Linked DNA regions of Homo sapiens: region 1 is linked to region 2. The links come from fine-mapping of genetic effects on gene expression. A gene starts in region 2. The other region holds a variant in brackets. All regions are shown on one strand. Distances are between the middles of the regions.

What was found.
Region 1: its variant is fine-mapped to the expression of ADRA2C in cerebellar hemisphere (GTEx, PIP above 0.99).

Annotation. Positions count from the first base shown.
Region 1 is chr4:3,733,992-3,742,314 of GRCh38, reverse strand. No RefSeq gene overlaps it. Among named protein-coding and RNA genes, the nearest start is that of ADRA2C, 28 kb to the left of the region's middle. The variant A/T (reference allele first, on the strand shown) is at 4,708.
Region 2 is chr4:3,762,093-3,770,415 of GRCh38, reverse strand. It overlaps ADRA2C (adrenoceptor alpha 2C), which reads right to left and starts at 4,031. Exons shown (of 1, transcript NM_000683.4): 1 at 1,890-4,031. The coding sequence starts at 3,809. The coding sequence ends at 2,421. RefSeq lists enhancers at 1-244, 931-1,616, 1,809-2,326.

The DNA.
Region 1 (8,323 bases), 28 kb after region 2:
GACAGGGAGATTGTCCTGGATTATCTGGGAGGGCCTGGTCTAAGCACAGAAGGCATTAGAAACAGGGAACTCCATCAGGCTGGAGTCAGGGCAGTGTAGGAGAAGTCAGAGAGATCCAAAGAGTGGGAAAGACTCCACCTGCCACTGCTGGTTGGAAGATGTAAGGACAGTGTGATAGGGGATTCAGGGAGCCTTGCAGGGCTAGGGACAGCCCCACTGGCCATCAGCAAGGGATAGGGACCTCAGTCCTAGGATGGTGTATCATTCGGTTTATCTCCAGATAAACCGAACCCAGAGGTCGTGTGTGTGTGTATGTGTATGTGTGTGTGTGTGTGTGTGTCTGTGTGTGTGTGTGGTTGCAGGGGCTGTCAAGTCCAAAATCCGCACGGCAGGCTGGCAGGCTGGCAGGCTGGGAAGAGTTGTGCTGAAGCTCCAGTCCGAGTCCGTCGGCTGCCGAAATCCTCTCTTCCTCCATAGGGAGTGTGGCCTTTTCTCTGAAAGCCTTCACCTGATCAGATGAGGCCCTCCCACATCCAATCAGGTGAAGCAGATGGCCTGATTTAAATCTTAATCTTTAAGAAAAAAAATTACCTTCACAGCAACATTTAGAATATGGTTTGACTAAATAAATATCTGAGTACCATGGCCCAGCCACGCTGGAGCATAAATTTCACCATTCAAACTCAAGCATCGGGATTCTGCCACACCCTGCACCAGGCCAGAAGCAGGTTCTCACCAAGAGCCTCCAAAGCACAGCCAGGCCCTGGCATCTTGATTCCGGCCTGGTTAAACCTGGAGCAGGGGGACTGGCTGAGCCCGTAGGACTCCGGACCTACACAGCCGTGGGAGGAGAAACATGTGCTTCTCAACACCACGGAGCTTGTGGTCACTGGTTACAGCAGCGTGGGCAGCCCACAGGGTAAGCCCTTGATGGCAGCGGGCCTGCTGGGGTGGAGAAGCGCTCAAGTGGGTGAGATCGAGATGCCACACAGCTGAATCTGGGCATTGTCTTGGGCCTTTTGCCAAGTTCCAAGGTGAGCTGGCGTGAAATCTCTTAGCCAGCAGAGCAGGGAGATCTCTGTGACACTGCGGCTGAGGGAGACCCACCGGCCTCACATCAGGGATGTGCTGGCTGTTTCTCAAAGCCTCCAGTGAATAAGCCACAGTCCACCCCTCCACACTGTCACATGGGACAGCACCTCTTAAGCCATGGTCAGCCTTATCCTGATTGCCCTGGGGTCATTAGTGGCCTGCCACCCCTCACCTGCCCTTCTCACCCCGGGTGCCTCCCCCTCCAGCCTGTCCTCCAAGTGGCTGGGAGCCCAGGTGTGTGGTGCTCCTGGGACCTCCAGCCACAGAACAGGAGCTGTTCCCTCCTCCCCTGCTTCATCCCTCAGGACCCTGCAAAGGACTTTGCTCTAAAACCAGCTTCTGCTAAAGTCATTGATCACCTCAATTTCCTGAGTGAGGTGACATGGCCCTGGGGGATGGGTGACCACCCCAGCACAGGGATGATAGCAGAGACTTGGACCTCCTGATGCCCAAACCCAGCTCTTCCTCCACGGCATGGGGTGGTGCAGATGATGCTGTCATCCCACGTGTTCGTGGCACTTTGATCATTTTGAGGGACAAAAATCCTAAGTGACAGGTCATGAAATTACGGCCAGCATGGTTAATCAGCAGCGGAACTGGCCCCGGCCAGCATGGTTAATCGGCAGCTGAACTGGCCTCGGCCAGCATGGTTGATCGGCGGCGGAACTGGCCTCGGCCAGCGTGGTTGATCAGGGCGGAAGTGGTGTAGGCCAGCGTGGTTGATCGGGGCGGAACTGGCCTCTCTCCCTGTCACTAGCGGCAGAACTCGTCGAGTGGCCTATCGTGCTCTTTGATGAGCGTTTACAGCTGTGGCTTGTGTGACCTCTGATTCTCACGGAGAGGGCCCCGGACGCGCGTGGGGCCCTTCACAGTCTGGCAGTGCTGCTGTGCTGGGTTTCTGGGGGTGGAGGTTCCTCCCACACCCAGGCCACACCTTCTTCCAGCAAAGCGGGGCAGGGGTGCTGTGGGCAGGGTGGGCTTGCTGGCAAACCGCTGTCACATTCGCCCAGATAGCTGTGTTCTCCTCCTCTCCCTACTGGGGACTGGCCACTCCCCCAGGTCCTGGAGGGCCCAAGGACCAGGCTGAGGGAGGGAGGTCTCTTTGCTGAAGCTTGAGGGAGCCTGGGATCCAGGGATCCTGCAGAGCCCACCTGTGCCCAGGTCTGGGGTACAGGTGGCTCCCAGAGGGGAATCCTCAACTAACGGGAAACTGACAAGCTGGCGGGGACTAGAGGGCCACAGAGGCCCATGGGAGTCCCAGGGGTGCCTCACCCCGCCCAGGGAATCCCAAAGACTCCCTGGAGGAGGCCAGGCAGCTGGGCCACCACAGTTGGTCTGTGACTGTGGTTTCAGGGGGAGCATGGTGAGTGCTGCCCACGCACCTCAGCCCGGTGGGATGGCGCCAAGGCCTTGTGGCGCTGGACGAGGTCATCTCAGCTCTGCGCTGTGGAGGGGCCTCTGCCAGCTGCAGGCCACGCCCTCGCCTCATGTCCCTGGGACCTCACATCGCAGCCCCGGGACAGCTGCACCTGCCACAGGCCAGGTCAGGACTGGCCTCATTCCCCCGACCCTCGGTGTCAGGCCTCCAGGGTGGGAGCATGAGGCTGTGCTGGACCCAGAACTGCAGCTGTTGGTGGGGCCAGGTGGAGAGAGGGAGCCCCAGGCAGCCAAGCCTCCTCTCTGTACCCCGAACATATGAGATCCCCAGGGCTGCCATAAAGAGTGCCACAGACTGGGGCCTAAACAACAGAAACAGAAAGATCTCCTCTCCCAGCTCTGGAGGCCGGGAGTCCGGGTCAGGGTGTGGGCAGGTCTGGCTCCCCTCGAGGCTGCGAGGGAAGAATGGTCCCATCCTCTACCCAGCTCCTGGTGGCGCCAGCAGCCGCGGCCGCTCCTTGGCTTGAGGAAGTGACACCCCGACCCCTGCCTTCTTCCTCCCACGGCACTCTCCCTCCGTGCCTGTGTCCAAATCTCCCCCTTTATAAGGACATCAGCCAGATTGAATTAGGGGCTTCCCTATCCCAGCATGACCTCATCTTAACTCATGACATCTCCAACGACCTTATTTCCAAATAAGGGCCCACTCTGAGGTCCTGGGGTTGGGACTTCAATATGAATTTTGGGATAACACAGTTCCCCCATAACCCCAAGCATGGGCCCAATTTGCCCACTGCACGGGGCAGAACTAAAGCCCCACGCCGCCCCTACCCTCTTTGCAGGGGGTCAAGGCCATGCAGAGCTCCCTGGCCTCCCCCAGGGAAGACCTGACCTCCAGGCCAAGCAGCTCACCCAGGTCCCTCTCCAACCCCACCCGGAGCTCTCTTTGACAAACGCAGAGGTTGCATCTTATCATCTCATGGCCTCTCCGGCCCTGTGGGCGCCGCTTGTAGGCTGGCCCCGGGAAGCTGTCCAGTTTAAACCTAGCCAGGCGCGGTGGCTCATGCCTGTAATCCCAGCACTTTGGGAGGCCAAGGTGAGCGGATCACAAGGTCAGGAGATCGAGACCATCCTGGCTAACATGGTGAAACCCCGTCTCTACTAAAAAATAAAAAATAATTAGCCGGGCGCGGTGGTGGGCACCTGTAGTCCCAGCTACTGGGAAGGCTGAGGCAGGAGAATGGCATGAACCCAGGAGGCGGAGCTTGCAGTGAGCCGAGATCACGCCACTGCACTCCAGTCTGGGCAACAGAGCGAGACTCTGTCTCAAAAAATAAAATAAAATAAAAAAATTTAAAAATAAATAAATAAATAAACCTGGGGCAGCCGTCTCTCCAGGGTAAGCGACAGTGAATCACACCAGTGGACGGGCAAAGCCAGGGATGAGCAGGGCCCACTCCTCCGTGGGTGGCGAGGGAGCAGGCCACCTCACCTCCCCGGCTCTCTGCTGTAGCAGCCACTGAGGGTCTGCAGGAGTGCCACCCTCACCCCACCAGAAACGCCCCACCTTCCTGTCTCCTTTCCGCTCACTGTCCTCACAGCCTGTCCTATGCCCAGCCTTGCCTCAGTGGAGATGAATAAGCCACAGTCCACCCCTCCACTGTGTCACGTGGGACAGCCCTCTCAAGCCGCAGTCAGCCTCATCCTCACTGCCCTGGGGCCGGTGGTGACCTCCTACCTGCCCTCCTTACTGTGAGCGCCTCCCCTATCCAGCCCATCCTCTGAGCGGCCTCCAAAGGCCCCCCTAAAATGCCTGTCTCATCGTATCCCTTCCTGGCTTATCCAAACCCCAGTGGAATTACCAGGCTCTGTGCCCATCTCACCCCTCCTGAGACCCCACAGAAGAACAAGTGAGAACTGGTTCATGCCAGGAAGGAGCTTGGGAGGGATACAGGTGCCAAGCAGTGAGAGACGCCAACCAGTTTCTGGACCATGGAAAGGAATGGGAGTGGACTCTCGGTGAACGGAAGAGAAACCCACAGCCTGGCGTCTCCACGAGTGGCCGCAGGGGTGAAGCAGGGTGGGCTCCGGACTCAGAGCCCAGGGACAGCCAAAGGCAGGTGTGAGAGGAGGGGCTGGAGGGGACAACTGCCCCTCACCCCCAATTCCTCACTTGGAGTGAAGACAGGAAGCTTATACCCCAGGAAGTAAATTAGATTATTCTCCAAGCAACTCAAA[A/T]GAACTGCCTGTGGATACCAGCAGGCCCCCCAAAGGCCTGTCTCCTTCCAGCTCCTGGGACACCAAGCGGGAGAGGTGGCCGCTTTGCCATTCCCTCAAAGCGGAGCTTCCAGGTGACACCTTGTCCTACCCCAGGGGAAAGAAGAGCTACTCAGACAAGAGCAGAGGTTGCTCCCGCCTGCCCCTGCCCAGCATCCCTCCAACAGCCTGAAACGGCAGCATGGACCTCAGGGGAAGCAGGGGCTCTTGAAACAAGTCCCAGCACATTAAGCTTAAAAACAAGAACTTCTAATGAAAGTGCTCAGAGGACTCATGAAAATATCACAATCATAGGAAGACACAAATAGAAACAATGAGAGAACAAGAAAGAACACTGGGAGGTTGAAATACAATTGCCAAAATACAAACTTCAGCAGAGAATATGGAAAATAAAGTCGAGAACATCCACCAGAATTTAGATTAAAACAAAAGTAAAGGACCAAACCAGAGGACCTAATATCGGACAGACAGAGTCCCAATAAGAAACACAGGAAACAGAGGGAGACGATGGCCAGGGAATTCACAGAACAGATGGTACAGCACCAGTGTCACGATTTCTTCCATTTCCTGTGGCCTTCCCTGGATGGTGGGAGGAAAATAGCCCATAGCCAGAGGCATCGTTGCTGAATTTCCAATCTCCATGGATGGCTTCCAAATTTCCAGGAAAAGAAAACAGGTGAGCCACAAAGGGAGCAGAATCAGAAGGACTTTTTTTTTTTGAGACAGAGTCTCACTGTCACCAGGCTGGAGTGCAGTGGCTCGATCTCGGCTCACTGCAACCTCTGCCTCCCGGGTTCAAGCCATCTTCCTGCCTCAGCCTCCAGAGTAGCTGGGACTACAGGCACGCACCACCACACCCAACTAATTGACTTTCTAGATCTCACTGGCAACACTGGAGTCTGGGGAGAAGATGCTTTCTCGGTTCTGAGGCAAGTAATGTTCGACCTGGCATTCTATACACAGTCAAATGGTTTATCAAGTGAGAGGACAGAATAAAAACATTTTCACAAATGCCAGAGCACACGTATTTGTTTTTCATACCCTTGTTGCTAGGAAGTTACTTGAGGATGTGCTCCAGCAGGAGCAGGTGGCAAAACAAAGAAAGGGAAACACAGGCACTATGACTCTGTAGATCCAGCTCTGTGTGGAGGGAAGGGAAGGTCGGGAATAGTGGAGCAGACCTGGGGACAACCAGTCCACACTGGAACAGACACCAGGGGATGCGGGGAGGCTTCTGGGCAGCAGGGGGTGGGACAGAATGGATGTTATGATGGAGAAACAACGATTTTGAGGGAGAAAAATAATGATAAATAAAGGCATACATATAAAAATTGGGTCATTAAATCTCCACGAAAACAAGAAATCACACAGGAGACTTGGGGAAAGACTGAAATGTGATATGATCTGGAACAATGAGTGGAGAATGAGTAAAGAACCCATTTGGCTGGGGGCGGTGGCTCACGCCTGGAATCCCAGCACTTTGGGAGGCAGAGGCAGGCAGATCTTTTGAGCCCAGGAGTTTGAGACCAGCTTGGGCAACATGGCGAAACCCTGGACCATGCCTGTGGTCCTAGCTACTCAGGAGGCTGAGGCAGGAGGATTGCTTGAGCCCAGGAGCTTGAGGCTGCAGTGAGCCAAGATCATGCCACTGCACTCCAGCCTGGGCGACAGAGCGAGACCTTGTCTCAAACAAACAAAAAAATAACCCACTTGCTCTGCAGTTACCCTCAAATTCCCAGGGATTGTGGGAGAAGACGTCACGGCAGGCCTGGCCTCACCCTGAGTGATACTTACACAGTCATCACCATCCACACACTCCTGGCTGATTTTTGAATGTCAAGGCATCTCAGGGCCAGGCCTAGTAGGGCCAGGCATGGTCCCAGGACCGAGGACACCCCCAGCCTGGACGCTGTGGAGGGACGTGGGAGGTGGAGCTGGGTCTGTGGTTGGACCCACAGCTTTTTGGGATTCTGTTCGTTTGCCCACCGGCTCCTCTGGCTTCCATCGCTCTCCTGCACTAGAACGTAAGCTTCATGGGGCTGAGCCCAAGACCGTCTTGTCCCCTCCTGCTGGGGCCTCCTCACATGGAACCTGGGGCCAGGTGTGCACTGGGCCACATTCACGGGCAACCGACTGAGCTCCTGGGCCACCCAGCCCCTGGGAAGAGCCAGCTGCCACAGTCACAACCTCGTCCCCAGGTCACAGCCGCTGCTAGGCCCTCGCACTCCTCCAGAGCTCCAGGCCCATCCCTGTGCCGCGTCTCCTGACAGCCTCGCCTCTGCCCCACCTGGCCCATGGGATGGGCCTTCTCCCCTAGAGCCTGGGGGTCTAGCTGCGTCCTCCAGGGTGAGAGGGCACTGCCTGGTACATAGGGTGCTCAAGGCCACCTCAATACTGTCTATAAAACTGGGTTTGCCCCACTAAGCACCATGGTGATGTCGTCTTTCCAAGCCACAGCCTTTGCCTCCATCAAGGGGGTGGGAATTGGGGCCAAGGGTTTAAGCCAAGTTTTATGAAAACGACTGGGTGAAACCTCCACACTGCAATGCCTGTTACACAGTCTCCCGCACCCCACACCACGCGCCTTCACACACACACGGGGAATGAGCGTCTCTCGTCTCCGGGGTGGCTGATGGGACCTCAGGGGCACCTTCCTTGGGGCCATCCCACTTTATGCCCTTCCCTCCTTTCTGGCAACAGACCTCTGCTTTTGCTGTCATCTGACTATGCCTGATCCCACGGTCCAGTCTGCCCAGGTCTCTGGGTGGGCACCTGACCTAGGTGAGCCCACTCCCCAGCCACGGGGATTGCCCCAGAGGAGCCCATCAGACGCTTCCCCGGGACACATTTCTAGGGCCACAGGGCTGGGCACTTTCCTCTCCCCTGGACTGCTAAGCTGGGCAGACGCAGCGACTGTAAGACGTGCCTGGCAGCAGCCTCCAGCCTGGACTTGGACAGAGATACGGGCCCCTTCTCATGTCGTTGGGTCCTGCTGTGCCTGGGCCCATCCTGGTCCCCAGACCCCGTTACAAAATCTTGACTGGCTTGAGTCAGGCCGTGTGTGGTCCCTGCTGCCAAGAAGGCTACATCTTCTGGGGCTGCCCCTTTCCCACGGGGAACCCCCCGTGTCCTCCCTCTTGCACAGGAGCCCCCGTTTTGCCTGTGACTGCCCAGGTCTTTGGGTCCCCGCTTCCCATCCCCGCCAGCAGGGCCTCATACACGGCGGGCCGGTTGCCTGCCCAGTGGAGATCTCGGGATGTGAAGATGAATGAGGAGTGTGGCCTCCCTGGTGTGGGGACCTACTCTGTCGTGGGCAGGTTAGCGACATCGTCCTTCACGCCATCTCGCCTTACAGGCTCCGAGAGTAACTCATGTGGGTGCAGCACTGGGCTTCGAACCCAGGCCGCTGGGACTCTGGGCCCATGCTGCCTCACCTTCCCCAGGGGCCAGCGCCTATGGCATTGGGCTTGTTTCCAGATCTCAAGGCTGCAAGGCCGAGGTCAGGGTTGACTTTTACCTGCATATTGAGTGACAAGACTTGAGAGGCATCTTTCAGAACCGCTCGGCTTTGGTGAGG
Region 2 (8,323 bases):
TTGAGTGCTGGCAGGTGAGGGGTTGGGGGTCTGCCCTCCCGTCTTGCAGTTGTGAGTTTTGGACCCCTCCTGCCGGCTTGGTAAGATGCAGATTCTGGAGCAGAAATCCTGAGCTCTGGAGTCTTTTTCATGTGTGTACAGTGATTCTCTCGCAGCCCAAGGCCTGCCCTCAGAGTGTCCCTGGGTGCGATGTCAGCCATGGAGTCTCTGAGGTGGGGTCTCCTGTGGTCCCAGGCTCAGGGGATAGATTGCCCAACAGATTGGCAGGCCTGGCAGGGCCCAAGAGGGCTCCCAGGACCCCCTCCACTTCCCAGGTGGGGCACCGAGGCCCAGAGAGCAGGGATTTGTCTGAGCCAGTACAACAGCTCCAGGACAAGCTGGGCCAACAGTTCAGGACTCCCTGCCCAGGCCTGGTCGGGGGAGGTCAGGGATGTCCTCATCGGCCTTGACTGGCCATGTTCTCCACCCCTCCCCTGCCCCCACTGCTGTCTGTATCTCCCCACCTGTGTCTGAGACTAGCACACAGCAGGTGTGAGCATTAGCACATGTGCCAGCTGTGGACACGGCTGGGAGAGCTCTTCCCAGCTGGGGTATCCTGAAGACCCATCATCTGGGGTGGAAGCCAGGCAGCTGCGGCGAGGGGGTTCTCCAAGGGCCAACTCTGGCAAGTCAGGTCCCCCTGCTCTGGAACCTGACTTCGCGGACGGGGGCTTGCAGAAGAACACAGGACCCAGGGCTGACCCCTCCCCAGGCAGACCCTGGCCCCCCATGCCAAAGAGAGAGGTGGGTATCCAGGATGGATCTGGGCTGGGCTCAGCAGGCAGGGTCTGGCAGGGGAGGGTACACATAGGGAAGCCCAGGGGGGCCTCCCAGGGATGGGAAGGGGGACGGGAATGGGGAATGGATGGTCACAAGCAGGAGGCCTGACACAGCCCCCACACGCCTACCGAGCTGTCTGTGCGTGTGTGTTGGGGGGACCCCTGCCCAGCTCCTGCCAGGCGCAGGTCCCGCTTTTGCCCCTCCCCTCCAGCCATCCTGGCAACTTCCAGGCCCTGTGACACGGCTGAGTCTGAGTGGTCCCTACACCATGAAGGCCCAGCACCAGGAAGCCCACCTTGGTATTCTGTCCCCCACTTTCCACTGCCCTTCCTCAAGCAGCAGTGTGAACAGTGTGGACACCTGCTGGGCCTGACGGTGGAGCAAGGGGGAAAGGCAGGGCTGCACTGGGAAGACCCTGGGGGCACCACAGGAAACAGGCCGGCCCCAGGCCCCTCTCCAGACATTGCTGGTTTGTTCCACTCCACTGCTCTGGGGCCTCAATGACTTTCAGTTTGTTTCGGAAATAAGAAAGTGCCTGTTGTTCAACCTGGCTCTGGCCAGGCCTCTGGCCTAAGAGTGATGGTGTGGGGGCTTGCCGGCCTCACGCCCACCCTCTCTCCACCCAAGAGCCACGCCCACAAAATGTTCAGAGCCAGGAGGACTAGCTCAAAGCTACTCTCAGTCTTGGACTGGAAGAGCCCCACCTCTTTCCACCGGAGGCCCTGAATATCAGAGTGGGGAAGGGCAGGGGGCAGGGATGGGAATGCAGGGAAGACAGTCCCCCAGAATCTAAACTTGGGGTCAACTTGGGGGTTCTAGGCTCCTTTCACCTCTTCGCTACTCTCAGCACAGGAATTTTGAGTACATATTTTCCATGTACATAAAGGGTTAGCTTGAGAAAAAGCAAGACCCCTCCTTCTCATGCAAGAAGGAAGTTGTAACCCGGAGGCCCAGGGTGCCCTCCGTCCAGCATTGTGGGGTGGGGGAGATGGGGGAGGGTGTCAGGCAGGGTGAGGGTCTGGAAGATACCCCCAGCCCCCAAGCTCAAGGACTGACTGCGGCACCCAACATTAGATTACAAAGGTTTATTTAGAAAATAGTTTGGTTGTTTTGGCTGTTGTTTTTGGCAAACATTTAAATACTTTCAGTAATCAAAGATTGTCGGTGCTTTCTCCTTGCCCCCTGGCAGCCACCCCCCGACTAGGTCCTGGAGAAGTCAGCCCTTGGTCAGACGGGGATGGGGAGTGGTAGTGTCTTTGGGGGGCTCCTTGCTTGCCCATTTAGGGGGCTACCTCTGCCACTGCTCTCTAAAACCCTGACCTCACAGCCACACCTCGGCAGGGCTCCCAGAGCTGGATCCAGGCAGGGAGCCCCAGAAGCAGCCCCTTGCTGAGGGGGGAAGGCAAAGGGGTCTCCCCCTCTCTCCTCCCCACTCCCTGGAGCCCGGCTATCTCTCTGCCAAGCTCCTGCCCTGCCGCACCCTCCCCTGCGCCCTGGAGGCCAATCCATCCCCGGGTCTCTGGGAAAGCTCCCCCGTCCGGGCCGCCCCTTCTGCCCAGCCCCGAGCGCGGAGCTGTCCAGGATTCCCAGACGGGTGCGAGTCACTGCCTGAAGCCCCTTCTCCTCCGTCGGAAGAGGATGTGCTTAAAGGATCGCCGGAAATCCTGGTTGAAGACCGTGTAGATGACCGGGTTGAGCGAGCTGTTGCAGTAGCCGATCCAGAAGAAGAACTTGAAGAGCGGGCCGGGCACCTGGCAGGCCTCGCGGCAGATGCCGTACAGGCTGTAGCTGAAGAAGAAGGGGAACCAGCAGAGCACGAACACGCCCATGACCACAGCCAGCACAAAGGTGAAGCGCTTCTCGCGCGCCTGGGCCACCTTGCGGCGGCACACGCTGCTGCGCGCCCGGCGCCGGCGCGACAGGAAGAACTCGACGGAGCGCGAGCTGGCGCGCGACAGGCGGCCACCGGGCCCCGGGGACCTGGAGGCGGTCAGCGCCCCCGACTCAGCCGCCCCCGGCCCCGCCCCCTGCCCGTCCGCACCGCCCGCGCCCCCCTCCGCGCCCGCTCGCCGCCGCCCGCCCCGCCGCAACGCGCCCCGGCGCCGCCGCCTCTCGGCCGCTGCGCTGCTCTCGTCCGGCTCCACGTCGGCGGGCGGGGGCGCGCAGTGCCCGTTCTCGCCTGCGCCTGCCGCCGCGCCCAGCCCGTTTTCGGTAGTCGGGGACGCACCGTCGGGGCCCACGGGGGCGCGCTTCTCGCTGAGCGTGCGCGTGCGCAGCTTGGCCACTCGGTAGATGCGCGCGTAGACCAGGCCCATGATGAGGCAGGGCGCGAAGAAGGAGCCGATGCAGGAGGACAGGATGTACCAGGTCTCGTCGTTGAGGCCGCACTGCGGGTAGGCGGCGCCGTCGGGCTGGCGGTAGAGCGAGACCAGCGGCGGGAAGGAGATGACGGCCGAGATGAGCCACACGGCCACGATGGTGGCCTTGACGCGGCGTGGTGTGCGCTTCAGGTTGTACTCGACGGCCTGCGTCACCGACCAGTAGCGGTCCAGGCTGATGGCACACAGATGCACGATCGACGAGGTGCAAAACAGCACATCGAGCGCCAGGTACACGCCGCACCACACCTGCCCGAAGTACCAGTAGGCCATGAGCTCGTTGGCCAACGAGAAGGGCATGACCAGCGTGGCCACCAGGATGTCGGCCGAGGCCAGCGACACCAGGAAGAGGTTCTGTGGCGCGCGCAGCGCCCGGCTGGTCAGCACGGCGATCACCACCAGCACGTTGCCCACCACGGTGAAGACGATGAGGAAGCCCACCACGGCAGCCAGCCCTGCCACCGCGCCCGCCGAGTACTGGCCGCGCGGCGGCCCCCAGGAAGCCCCCGAGGCATTGGCAACCCCGCCGCTGCCCCTCTCGCCCGCGCCGCTCGCATTGGGGCCCGCCGCTGCCGCCACCGCCAGCGCCGCCGCCAGCGCCGGGGACGCCATGGTCCTCCCGCGAGCTACGCCGTCCCTCCTGGAGCCGGGGCGCAGCCGCGGCAGCTCGGGCGCCCCCCAGCCGGGGTCGGCGCCCGCATCGCCGCCTGCTGCTCGGGCGCGCCCGCCGGGGACCGCGGCGCCCAGCAGCCGGCCCTCGGCCGTGGTGGCTCCGCGGGCGGCGCGCCGGAGAGCGTGGCTGCCGGGCTCCCCGCAGCTGCCGAGCGTGTAAGTGCAGAGCAGGAGGCGCCCGGAGCGAGCGGCGACGCGGCTGCGGGGGGAGGGGGGCAGGTCCCGGGGTCCTCGCGCGGCCCCGCCCTCGGCCCGGCTCACGGGGAGCGCCCCGGCGTCGAGCCCACGGCGACGCGGCGCCCGAGCGGGCGTGCCTGAGCGGCCCCGCGGTCCCGGAGCCCAGCCGGGGCGCAGGCGACAGGCGGCGGCGGCCCGGGCGCTCCGCCTCCCATCCGGCCGGCTAGGGCTCGGCGCGCCGGGGCGCCGGCCGCCGCTCCTCCGGGCCCCCGCGCCCGCGCGCTCCCTCCGTCTCCAACTTTACTTTCCCGGGCGGGGCGCCGGCGCCGCCGCGAGTCCTCCGGCTGCTCCCGGGCGCGGGCGCCCCCCGCGGTCCACGCTTGGCCGTGCGGCCGCCGCCTCGCTCGCCGGAGCTGCGCCGCCGCCGCCGCCGCCGCCCTGCGCTGGGCGCGAGTGCGGCCGCCTGCGATCGGCTTCCAACTTGGGTCGAGTTGCGCAGCGGGGCGGGCGCGCGGGGCGGGGCGGGCCGCGGGCCCTGGGGAGCTGGCCGGGAACCGGAGCCCGCGGCCGCCTGGTCGAACCTGCCCGCGCGGCGCCGGGGAGGAGTCCGGGGCGGCGGCGCGGGGCGCGCGCTCGGCGAGGGCGCCCCCTCCAGGGCCGCCTGCAGCCTGCGGGACGGGGCCGAGCGGCGGCCGGCCTGGGTGGTGAGTTCCAGAAGCTGCTCTTTCTAAGACTGGAGCCTCCTTCGCCTCCCCCGGCGCAGGCATGGGCGCAGGCGGGGGCGCGCACACGCGCGCGCGCAGCACGGGCGGCTCGGGGTCCATGGCCTGATGGCAGAGCAACCTCTCGCAGCCTGGGGGAGGACGCGACGCTACCTGCGTGCGCACAGGTCCTGCCGAGCTCAGGGTCCGGACCAGATCCTGGATCGGCGCTCCCCGTCAGAGCCACCTCCGCACCCACCCCGGCCTCAGTTCCCTCGGCCCACTTCCCAGCGCTGCTGGAGCATGAATCATAACTAACGGCGGTGTCTGTGGAAGCCCTGGGCAAGCTCCCAAGCTCTGCACCCATGTTAGCAGTGATTGAAGTTTAATCCTTAGGCTCTCAGGCCCTGCTTTTAAAGGATGGAGAGGTGTTCAAAGTCACCACCTCTGACAAACACCCAGAACGGAGCTGCCTGGATGATGGAGCTTTTTGCAAGGGTGGGCTCAGGGGAGAGCGGCCGTTGAGGTAGCCCCCGTGCACCCTCGCCCCCGTCCGCGCACCTCCATTCTGCAGATGTGCACTGCCACGTGCACTGCCACTCTGTGGCCCATGTTGGGTGCTGGCTTCTGCCTCCAGGCAGCCTGGGGTCTGTGGGAGAGGGACTTCCAGGGACGAGGTGATCCAGGAGGAGAGCTGGAGTTCTCAGGCCTGACGTTTCTCTGCTAGGACCGAAGGGACGACCCTTCTCCCAAACGTCCAGAAACGAACCCCAGCTGGCTGGCCTCTCCCTGCATGGGCCCGCAGGAGAGAGGGAGGGAAGGTCTGTCCATCCTGTGGCTAGAACCGGCGGGGAAGGGGCGCTTCTGAGTGCCCGGGAGGTCATCATGAAGAGCGGCTGGAGTGACTGCCCTACCCCCGGGATGCCTATCCATGCCCGTGGCCTGGGGCAGCTTCTCTCTGAGCTCCTGAAGGGCGCCAGCTTTAGCCTCAGAGCCTGTCGTGTTCTCTGCTGCTCAGCCCTACTGGGGAGCATGTCTGTCTCCGCAGAGACACTGCCAGGAGCTACGGCTTCGTTCTTCACCATGTTTGTCACCAGCAGGGCCTGCATTGGGGGTGTGGAGGCCGAGCCAGGGCCCGGCAGAAAGCAAATATTTCAGATGATGGGCCTGCCAAGCAGGGGCGCACGTTGGAGCCAAAGCCTTCTGTGCCAGTCCTGTGCTAGTCTAGGGCACATATGCCCTTCGGGGAGGCAACAGGCCATGGCTGTCCTGTGGGAGGTGTGTGACCTGGGGATGGTGGAGGGTCACCATCCTTACTAAAGGCCCTCCTGGTTCTGGTTGCCTAAAAGGTGCCACCTGTCCAGGGCACCTGGAGGTGCATTTTTCAGGGAAGCCCACACACACCTGCTTCCTTCATGGTCGGCCCGCTGGAGCCCTTGTCTCTATTGAGCCCTCTGCGATGGCAGAGAGTGAGGGGGGCCTGGCCTCAGTTGAGGTGCTCACCATCTGTGGGTGGATGGGGCCACCCACTGAGGTGAATGCGCTGACAACCATCAGTGCCCTGGGGCTCCTCCCCCAGCCTGGGAGCGGGGTTGTCAAGGAAGCCTTCCTGGAGGAGGTGACCAAACTGTGCTTAGAGAGTGAGGAGGTGTTATGAGGAAGGGGGAGGCCTCTGTAGGCTGTCCTTCTTCCAGTGGGAGTGGGCTTTGTACTGGGGGCGTGGGGAGACAGGAGGACTAGGAAAGAGCAGTGGCAGGGGCCAGATGCAGGCTTTGGAGAAGGTCTCTCTCCCTCGGCATCAGCGTGCCTCCCACCCCCATCCTGAAGGGCTCTCTTTTTGAGAAGTGCTTTGGGGGATGCGCAGGGGCATGGGGATCTATCTAGGATCCTGGCTCCTATGTTCCCAAGAGATGGCAGCCCAGGCACGGGAATTTGGAGGGAAAAGGACACGGAGCACCTGGGGCCCTGAGCCAGATGAGCCTCCCACTGCCCAGGAGGGCTGAAGGCAGGGGCCACTCACAGGCCAGGCTGAGGGCATCTGGAGTGCCTGGCCAGTGAGCGGCCCAGGCCCTTGGGGATGGCAGCCAACAGGCTGACATGCTGCTGGCAACACCTCCTGGCATGACCAGGGAGGGGTCAGAAGGGTCCACTCCAGGGCCTGGATGGAGCCAAGGGCAAAAAGCTGGGGCCTGGAGTCATTAGGAGGAGCGAAGCCCTGGGCCATGCATAGGGGTTGCATTGCACGCAGGCCTGCCTGTGGTGGGAGGGCCCGGGACCGCAGCTGTTTGCAAGGAAGCTGGAGAGGACTCTTCCCCCAGACCTTGAAATTAGGCTTGAGGAACTGCTCCGGATTGTCCGTAACAAGCAGAACAGCACGTACCCAGCAAGACTTCCTGTCCTGACGAGGCACGACGCGAGCTGGCACGACCAGGAGGGGCGAGGAAGGAGGGTGCTGGGGGAGTCAGGCTGCACTGGCGGGGGTTGTGGGGGCTGTCTGTGTGTACGTGTGCAGGGGAGTACATGGCAGAAGTGGGCATATTTCAGAGGGGAAACCTACAGGTGTTTCCTAGAACTGAGAACCTAGAAGTGGCACGTCCTGGAGCTGCAGAGGCGAACCTGCCTGTATCTCACCCATGATGCGTGGGGCCTAGGAGGACAGGGTTGGTCCAGCAGGGCCATACAGCCATGGGACATTGGGCCCTGGCTGCTGTGCCGGAGAGAGCTGGGTGCCTGCCTGGGATGCCGCGCTCTAGGCTTCGTGAGCAGCCTCAGCTCGGGTGGAGGGGAGTTTGGCTCCTTGAGCCCCCTCCCTGCACATGCAGGCATGCATGCACATACGCAGATGTACAGTGTCCACACACATATATGTATCCACACACATCCTTGTGCACACATAGATCCATGCACACACATGAATATACATATCATGAATACACGTGTGTTCATGCAAGCATGAACACCCATACATACACATATCCACACATGCATGCAAGCATGCAACCTATTCATGCACACTTGCATGCCTTCACACACACATGCATGCACACATCCACACACACACTGTCTACATATACCATGTGGATTTACAGTGCATCCATGCCTACAGAATATACACACATGTATGCACACATACATGTTCCCACACATGCACACATGCCTGCGTGTGCATACACATGCCCGTGTACTCTTCACATGCAGGTGCATATATACATATGCACTATCATACACACGTGCTTTTTGCACACGTATGTCTACACATGCATATGTATCACACTGGCATATGTAGAAATGATGCACCCATGCTGTGCACACACCTGTGCATACTGCGGGCACGCACAGCCTTCCCTGTGCAGATAACACGAATCCATGCACATTGCACACACGTGTGTATGCCTGTGCTGCACACATCTGTCCCTATGCATGACACCAGTCATGCATGTGCACACATGGCTTCGCATATATGGATGTGTACACACATATGCGGCACCTGTGGCCTTGCCCACCCTCCTAGGCTGAGGAGAAGATGTATTTCTGGGTTGCTGCTGCAGCCAGCTCTTCCGGGGCTGCGGCTGGGTT